2 separate regions of the Homo sapiens genome follow, and region 2 is linked to region 1. The links come from fine-mapping of genetic effects on gene expression. A gene starts in region 1. The other region holds a variant in brackets. All regions are shown on one strand. Distances are from middle to middle.

Region 1 (4,375 bases):
TGCCCTGTAAGGGTCTGGCGTCTCTGCGGCGGCTGGAGCCTGAGGGAAGCCTTACAGCCCAGTGGCTACAAGCACAGCAGCTAATTGGGCCAGTCACTTCCAGCCCCTGCAGATCGGCCCCTGCATCCCTAGGACGGGAGCAGCTGCCTCTCAGGAACCCATCCGGTTTGAAGCCCAGTGGCCCGCACTTAGGAAGTGCTTGGGGGAGGCAGTCATCTTCCTGAAGCCTAGGGATTTACAACAAAGTACAAACCCTTCGGGCCCAGGTCAGGCACCTGTTCTCCTTGTGTGTGGGCCCTGGTGGGTGATATTTGGGGTGTGACATTTCTACCAAAGGGGACATGAGAAATACCTTAGGAAAGTCAAGTCTCAGATGCCCAGCCACAGATAGGTGACCCCAGGGCTGGAAACCAAGTGTTGGTCATGGGTCTGAGACCACCCCTCGACCTTGGCCCCACCTAACGTTCAACTCTGTCCCCACCAGAACCCAACCCACAGATCCTCACCACTCAGCACCAGAAAGCGCCCAGAAGAACTCCTGACCTCGACTGCCCACAGGGTCTAAAGGTGTCATCCCAGGCTCCGAATATCCACCAGAGAATCTTGGCCTCCGCCACACCCACCCCATTCCAGCTCCGCACATCCAGCATGAATCCTGGCCTCTGCCACACCCACCCCAATAATTAAAAAGAAAAAAGGCTGGGTGCGGTTGCTCACACCTGTAATCCCAGCACTTTGAGAGGCTGAGGTGGGCAGATCACCTGAGGTCAGGAATTCAAGACCAGCCTGGCCAACATGGTGAAACCCTGTCTCTACTAAAATACAAAAATTAGCCGGGCGTAGTAGCGGGCTCCTGTAATCCCAGCTACTCCGAGGCTGAGGCAGGGAGAATTGCTTGAACCCAGGAGGCGGAGGTGCAGTGAGCCAAGATCGTGGCATTGAACTCCAGCCTGGGCAACAGAGCAACACTCCGACTCAAAAAAAAAAAAAAACAAAAAACAAACAAAAAACAACAAAAAACAAAAACAAACCCTCTGTCCTCCTGCAGGGCTCTCTCCAGGGTGGGCTATGCGTCCTCCATGTTTACCAAAGTCACTCTTCTCCTCATCCGGAGGGCCTCTGCGGGGCAAGTAGCCAACCCGTGGCACGGAAACCAATTCCCCCATCCCGAGCAGGGAGCACACCCCACAGAAAGTCAGGGGCCCCTTCTTTAACTTCTTAACAGGAAGTCCTCACCCTGCAAGGGCGCCTCTCAGGTTTCGGATCCCTGCTAAAGAAAAGCATCTGTTCTTGGAGTAAACTGCAATGCGCGCGGTGGGGAGCGCCTGGCACCCCCCCTCGGGATCCATCCACAGTCCGTCTTGTCCAGAGGTGCCCTGCGGACAGACCGCACCGGGGGCCACGACCCCGCGCCCCGGGTCCCACCTCCCCGCGGGGATGGGGCGCCGGCCTCCCCTCCACTGCGCGGCGCTTTGTCCTCGGGTTCCCGGAGCAGACGGCGGCGCACAGCCCGGCCCCTGGCCCCGGCCTCCCTCCCGCCTGCCCCGACCCCTCCCTGGCGCCTGCGCTCCCAGGGCCCCCGGCCTTACCACAGCCGCTCGCTCCCTGCACCCGGTCCCCCCAGCCGGGTCCCCCAAGCCGCCCCCGCTCCCTGGCCAGGTCCGGCCGAACCCGGGCGGCGGCGACACTCACCCGCGCCGGGGGCGCCGGCTCCGGGCCCCGGGCTCCGCCACCAGCGCAGCAGAGCCCGCGCGGGCTCCAGGCTCACGGCGCAGCGCTGCTGCTTCACCCACAGCACGGATTGCAGCGGCTCCGCCGCCCCCGTCGCCCCCATCTCCGCCGCCGGGCTCGTCCGCCAGGCTGGGGGCGCGCGGACGCCGAGGGGCGCCGGACCGTTAGCGGCCCCTGCAGTGGCCCGGGCGGCGGGCGGCGGGCGGCGGGAGGCGGCGCTGCGTCACCCCGTACGCGGGCGGCGGGGACCGCGGAGGGGACGGGCGGGGCGGGGGCGAGGAGGAGGCGTGGGTAGAGGAGGGGCCGGGAGCCAGGGAGAGACGGGGGGACCCGAGAAGGGGAGAAGAGGGAGGAGGAAGGGGCCGGGATGGGGCTGGCCGAGGCCAGGGCGCTGGGGCCGGGAGGCGGCTGCCTTTCTCTCCTCTCTTCTCCGGCGGGTGCCGGGTGCTGAATCTGGCGCTCCCGCGGCCGGCCGGGACTCAGTGGCGCCTTCCGCGCGGGCCTCGGTTCAGGCGGGGTCCGGGCGGCGTGGAAACGCAGTCCTGGCGATCGGGCGCGGCGGGGGGCGGGCCTGGATGGGGGCGCCACGGGCGACGTGACCTTGGGCGGCGGGTGCCCTCTACGATCCTGGCGTCCTGTCGGCCTGGGAGGGGGCCTGCAGCTGGGCCCCGACAGGCAGGTAAGGCTTTCAGGAGGCGGAGGTCTTTTTAGGGGGCGGGGGCGCTGGCCCTTTGAACTGCTCTGGGGCCTGAAGCCACAGAGCAGACAGCTGAGCAGCCGCCCCCGAGCTGGCCCTAGGAACCGGAGCCTGGGCCCCAGACTTGGAGAGACACGGCCCCTGTGGCCCCAATTCACCGCCTCCCCAGGAAGGCCTCCTTGACCCCACAGCTGAAGGAATCACCAGCCTGCAGGGACTCCAGCCCTGCCTTCAGAGCACGCCGTGCGCCTTCATGCAAGCTCCAGTCTCTGCGTCCGCAGTGCTTAACACAGCCCCATAGGAAGCAGCCACAACCTGGTTCGGAGGGCACATCCCTCCCTGATTTATCAGTGAAGACTGTGCTCACAGAGGTTAAGTCACTTGCCCAAGAGCACAGGGCTCCAGTGTGGCAGAGCCTAGGCTCACACTGACACTGCCTGGATGTGACACTGAGGTCTGAGGCCTGCCCCTCCCCTCGGCTCCCCTACCCAGCCCTGCTGCTGCAGGCAGAGGTGAGGTGGGCTAGGTCCACGTGGCCTTGCTGCTGTGCCTGGCACCAGGTGGCAGCATATACAGGTCTTACCCTGCCAGCTCCTTGTGACTGTCTTGTCTATAGGGCGGGAACCAGCCATGAATCATTCCTCCCTGGGAGCCCAGCCCCTGTTCAGGCCATGCAGTGAAGGCCCCAGGACAGTCCTGCAGCCACCGTGGGCCCAGTCAGAGTCCTAGCAGGCAGTACCTGATCGTGGCACACAGTGGGGTGTGCAGCAGCGAGGCCTGCCCAGCCTCCTCCCTCCCTCAGCTGCCGCTCTGAGGCCTGGGAAATGTGGATCTGAAACTTACTTGGAAAGAAAAGCTCATGCCAGTGGCAGGAGGGTGCCGCTGCATGCGAAGAGGGTTGGCAGGCAAGGGTGGCATGGGCAGGGGCCCGAGAGCACCAGCGTCCCTACTGGGGACCCCTTCCCTGGGCCTCCCTGTGCTTAGGCTCCCCGTGCCCCTCCCGGCGTATTCACGTTGCTGTCCCCCGGCTGCACGCCTTGGCTTAAAATCCTGCAGCCAGAGGTGGGGGCCCAGAGACGACTCAGAAGTGCTTAGGCCCCGAAGGAGCTCCGTTGGGGGAGACAGCAACATCAGTTACAAAACACACAGGAGATTCAATGAGGCTGTTAGGGTGGGCCCTCATCCAGCGCGTCCTTACAAGAAGAGGAAATGTTGACCGGGCTCTGTGGCTCACACCTGTAATCCCAGCACTTTGGGAGGCTGAAGCGGGTGGATCACCTGAAGTCAGGCATTGGAGACCATCCTGGTCAACATGGTGAAACCCTGTCTCTACTAAAAATACAAAAATTAGCTGGGTGCAGTGGTGCGCTCCTGAATCCCAGCTACTCCGGAAGCTGAGGCAGGAGAATTGCTTGAACCCAGGTGAGCTGAGATTGCGCCATTGCACTCCAGCCTGGGTGACGAGAGCGAAACTCCATCTCAAAAAAAAAAGAAGAGGAAACGTGAACACACACAGACCCCCGAGGCGTGTGTACACAGGGGTGGCCATGGGAAGGGGCAACAAAAGAGAGTGACCTCCAGGAGGCCAACCCTGTGGGCTTGAACCTTGACCTCAGACTTCCAGCCTCTGCCAACTGTTCATGGGAGACGACAGATTGCTGTTGTTGAAGCCATCCAGTCCGTGATATTTTGTTATGGCAGCCTGAGCAGACCCAGGGGACCTGTAGTCCTAGGATGGGCTGGGGAGGGGCCTGGCCACTGCAGGGCCCCATGCTCATGCTCAGGGAGACAGGGTGATGTCACGAAGCCCAGGTTTCCAGAAGATGCACATCCTGCAGTTGAGTTGCATGGGAGAGGGGTTGGGTGGGGGTCAGGCCCTGTGTGGGGCCAGGGCCATGACTCTGGGCACAGCACTGGAGGGATGGGAGGAAAGAGCAGCTCCACCCC
Region 2 (4,375 bases), 77 kb before region 1:
CCTCCCTCCAGCCTCCACTTAGCCTCCCTCCAGGTCTCCCACCTCAGCCTCCCACCACCATTGGCCACACCTTTGTCTGTGGCCCCCATGACCTGCATGGATGGCTGTCACCAGTTAGGGAGGCACACGGCATCTCTGGGACACCCCAGCTGAGCACTGCCTGCTATGAGCGCTCCGGGGGCCGTGTGTCATTGTCAGGACTCCAAGTGTCGCTGCTTAGCTGGCCCTGAGGAAGCGGCTCCCTTCAGCACCCTCAGGTTTAGTGTGTGGGAAGACGGGGGATCCGCTGGGCTGACTCCCACTTCTTCCTTGCCCGCCTCCTGCAGGTCAGCATGACCTTGTGGAGTGCCCTGGGGGGCTCATGTGGGGGCTCATGTGGGGGCATCCAGCTGGTGTGGGGGAGGGAGAGGCCTCACTTTCCTATTCCGCCCTGGCAGAACCTCCCAGACCAGAAATGGGTGCATGGGCCTCGGCAGGCGCTTTACCTGATGCTGAACCTTCTGGGAAAATCCACAGAAGCTCAAAGCTTAAATTACATTTAATTATGTAGAGTTGCAACAGAGACCTGACCTGCCACGCTGGGAGATCCCAGGGACAGGTGCGGTCCCCAGGCATTTGGCCACAGTGCCATCCCCGCCACGGGACGCTGCTTCTCCCCCGGTGGCTAAGGTGGCCTGAGGCTGTCCCCGTGGCCCTGCTCCCTGTGTTCTGTTTCCCATCCTCTCACTCCCGCCAGCCCCACTCCAGGATCTGGTCCTCATCTTTTACCAAAGCCCCTTGGTGGCAGGTGTGCCCAGCCCGGGTCAGCTGTAAGAACGCAGGGAGCCCCATCTCGCACAGTCTCTGCCTTGGGAATGGGTGGGGAATGGGCAGTGAAGGAACATCCAGGCTGTGACCCAGGAAGTGGAAGCTGAAGGTCCTGGGAGCATTAAGGGCTCTCCCCTGCTTTACATGGGGGCGGCGCTTAGGAACCTTCTGGAAGCCTGAAGGAGGAGGGGTGAAGGAAGAGCAGTCCCAGGCAGAGTGACCTCCTCTTTCCTTGTCGTCCTGGTGCAGATCTGGGGTGGGTCTGGGTGGCTGTGGTCTGTCCAGGGTGGGTAGGTGTGTGAGGGCACACACAAACATGCAGACACATGTGCGCACACACTGCACACACACATACCACACACTCTGAAGCTGCAGGATTAAAGCACAGCAGTTCTGTTTATGCAAACCTCTATTTTGGTTTTTAAGAAAATTCTCAGAAAGTCACCTTGGTTTAAGGCTACTTGTCAGTAGGCAGAGATTCTCTCCATTGTGGATCCAAAGTCCCCTGAAAACCTCACTGTCTGCTTCCTGCCCGCTGCTTACCTGGCCGTGCCCTGTGTGCCCTGTGCTCCGCCCTCTGTTCTCTTCTCAGGGTTTACTCCTCCCCCAGCTTCCTCCCTCCCCACTCCCGCTTCCCAAGAGTTAGGAAGGTTAGGGGCGACCACACAGCACTTGGCCCGGTTCTGTGCTGCACCTGCTCACAGGCCTTGGCTGGAGGGGCTGGGTGTGGGACGGAAGCAGACCCTAGTGGCCGTCTAGTGCCCCTGCCCAGTCCAGGCAGGTCGCTGGAGTAGGCTGAGCTGGGAGCTGGGTACAGGCTGCTGACAGGTGGCACCCAGCCTGTGGCCTGGCTTGGTGCCTGATAAACACATGTGTGTTGATCAGTATCTTTTCATTAGCAGACGGGTTGGTGATATGAGAGTATTCTGAGTTTAATGATGTTGAAAGAAGCAAGTGTGCTAAAATGAATAGGAAAGGAAAGAGTGGTGAAAGATGCTGGTTGTTTAAAAACAAAACGTGTGCCTGTTAGGAAGGCAGCTCTGTGCTTGCCTGGATACGCTCGGAACCAGCATTTCAGCAGTGGAGACTCTGGAGAGAGCCCTGCTGTCCCTGACCTCTCCTGTGCAGTACA[C/T]GGTCGCGAGAGCCCTCGGGGGTGCCTGACTGGGCATGGAGTTTGGAACTAACAGACCTCTTGTCTCTTCTCTCCCTGCTTTTTAAGAACCGAGGAGCAGATGGCTCAGCAGCCCCCAAAAGGGCAGGCCCAGGCCAGCAATGGAGCAGGTACACCCTGGTGGGCGGGTGGACAGGCAGGCGGGCGGGTGGGTGGCTGCGCGTCACCTGCTGGTTCTGTAGGCCCAGGTTAACAATGGAGCAGATACCCCCTCCCCCAGCAGGTGGGCAGGCGGCAGGTGCTGGTTCTGTGCCCAGGCACCTGCTGGCATCCGGGAATCTCCTCCCGTCAGAACTGGGTTAGTGTCTCTGATGCGAAGTGGTGAGTCATCATAGTCGTCATCACAAATTTCCAGTCACTCAACTAAAGCGTGATTGTGTGTTCTTTGGGGAATACACACGTACTCTGTTTCAGCCTTGCCCCACGGAACAGTGATGTGAGAGCCACGCTGGTCACTGCCGCTGCCCTGGTGCCTCCCCGAAGGGGACCAAGTGGGCAGTGGGGCTATGGTTGGCTGTGAGTGGGGAGTTGGGGGTTCATGTGCCCTTTTATCTCTCTCCTCGTCCTCCATCCCTGAGTGCCTGTTCTTTATCTTGCCCCACGCCCTGCAGGCAGCCGGCATAGTTCCCTGTACCTGGGGGTCAGCAAACTCCAGCCCCCGCCTGGCTTCACAGATTTAAATGGTTTCATTTCATGACATGAGAACGTAATATAAACCTGAAATTTCAGTCCATAAATAAAGTCCATGGGAACACAGCCGGGCCGGTTCACTTACGGCTGGGACGAGTGTGCCGATCTCACCTGGACCCTCCCCTTAAAAACTCTGCCAGGCTGCCTTGGGGGCGGGAAGAAGCCGCAGGAGCCTGCCCTGGCCCCATCCTCCCTGCCCGGGTGGCCTTGGGGTACACAGACCTCAGCCCCCTTGGCCTGTGGCTCTTGAGCCTCTGCCCTGAGCCTGCAGCCCCCTGGGTATGGTGACCACAGGCCCTCTGGTCCCAGGGCCCAAAACTTTGGCGAGGCAGCACCCGCTGCAGGCGGCTCCTCACTGGCCTTCTGAAGGGAGGGACTGGCTTGCACCCCTGAGCCCCCCTTCCGAGGGATTCTTCCGGTTTCCCGCCGTGGAGGCTGCTTTCCAGAGGTGTTCGCTTTTGGTAAACATTGCTGGTCATCAGCACGACAACACCGTGCGCTCACCCTGGGCTGGCTGCGCTCGCCAGGCACCCCCAGCCCAGGACACAGCCTCCCGCTGCGCCATCCATTGGCTGATGCTCAGGATATGCAGGGCTGGGGCAGTGACCTCTCCATCTGCTTTCTGACAACCCGGAGGTAGAAAGGGGGTTTGATGCAGACGTCTGAGGTGGGCCGAGCAGCCTGGATGGACAGGCTGCCCGCTGACGAGAGCCCAGGGCGGGCAGAGAGCTGGGGACAGGGATGAAAAGCAGAGAGACCCGGCACTGAGGTCGTCATGGCTGGGGCAGCTCTGCTGTGTGCCGGTTGGTTTGCACTTGGTGTCTTCAGAGGACTGAGCCCTTCAAAGTCCCTTGTACAGGGACCCTTCATTTCCCTGACCTACCCCCGAGCATTCCTTGTGCCTCTGCTGGCCGCGCCCTTGCAGTGAGGCCCCTCCCTGCCCTGAGATCCCGGAGCCGACCCCAGAACAGGCAGTGCAGCCCTGCCGTGCCCTCACCGGGTCCCTGCCCCCTGCAGAGCGCCGGAGCCAGGGGCTGTCCTCGCGCCTGCAGAAGTGGTTCTACGAGCGGTTTGGGGAGTACGTGGAGGACTTCCGGTTCCAGCCCGAGGAGAACACTGTGGAGACAGAGGAACCCCTGAGCGCCCGCAGGTAGGGGTTCGCCGAGCTGGGGCTGCCTGTGCGTTAGGGGCCCCGGTCCCTGGGCTGAGGCTGCAGCGGGTGGGCCATCCTTTATCACCGTGGGCCAAAGCTGTCTGTGAGGCTGCCGAGAGCTCCTGGAGGCTCCGCTGTGTCTGGTCTTCTGGGGGCCGTGCCTGGCAGGGGCTTGCGAGGCCCGCTTAGGTGCAGCAGAGCTGCATGCGCGCACTGCTCTCAGCTGTGGCTTGTGACAGTTGTGTGGGGACTCATGGGGCTCAGCCCACTGCCTGGGGCCTTCCTTGGCTCTTGAGTCCCATCAGTAAACCTTGGTTCCCCTGCCAGGTGCTGCCATAGGCCCTGGGGGTCCCGAGGGAGCTAGGTCAGCAAAGGCCCTGCCCTTGAGGACTTCTGTTCTGGGGACACAGGCAGGAGATGAGGGGACGATTTCATTGGCGAGTCGCCCCTGCCTTCCTAACTTGGGGAGTGGCACTGAGGGCCATCCCGGCGCACCCTGCTGTGCTGAGCCGCCGTGCATGGCCATTCTGTGCACTCAAGGGGTCCCAGGCTGT

Which allele goes with the higher level. Positions count from the first base shown, and alleles are read on the strand shown. Sizes are in standard deviations (SD) of each study's normalised expression.
As copies of C replace T in region 2, the expression in lymphoblastoid cells of the gene that starts at base 1,938 in region 1 goes up (small effect, 0.22 SD a copy in GTEx).

What was found. PIP is the estimated chance that this variant, and not a neighbour inherited with it, causes the effect. A credible set is the group of variants that fine-mapping cannot tell apart.
Region 2: its variant is the best candidate, but not a certain one, in a credible set for the expression of CERK in lymphoblastoid cells (GTEx, PIP 0.81).

The regions. Positions count from the first base shown.
Region 1 is chr22:46,736,315-46,740,689 of GRCh38, forward strand. It overlaps CERK (ceramide kinase), which reads right to left and starts at 1,938. Exons shown (of 13, transcript NM_022766.6): 1 at 1,693-1,938. The coding sequence starts at 1,834. It overlaps LOC105373077 (a long non-coding RNA gene), which reads right to left and starts at 78. Exons shown (of 2, transcript XR_001755593.2): 1 at 1-78. RefSeq lists enhancers at 1-323, 1,011-1,180, 2,419-3,077, 2,451-2,780 and a silencer at 1,331-2,290.
Region 2 is chr22:46,659,355-46,663,729 of GRCh38, forward strand. It overlaps GRAMD4 (GRAM domain containing 4), which reads left to right. Exons shown (of 19, transcript NM_015124.5): 5 at 2,027-2,088; 6 at 3,686-3,818. Among named protein-coding and RNA genes, the nearest start is that of GRAMD4, 41 kb to the left of the region's middle. RefSeq lists an enhancer at 2,504-3,087. The variant C/T (reference allele first, on the strand shown) is at 1,940.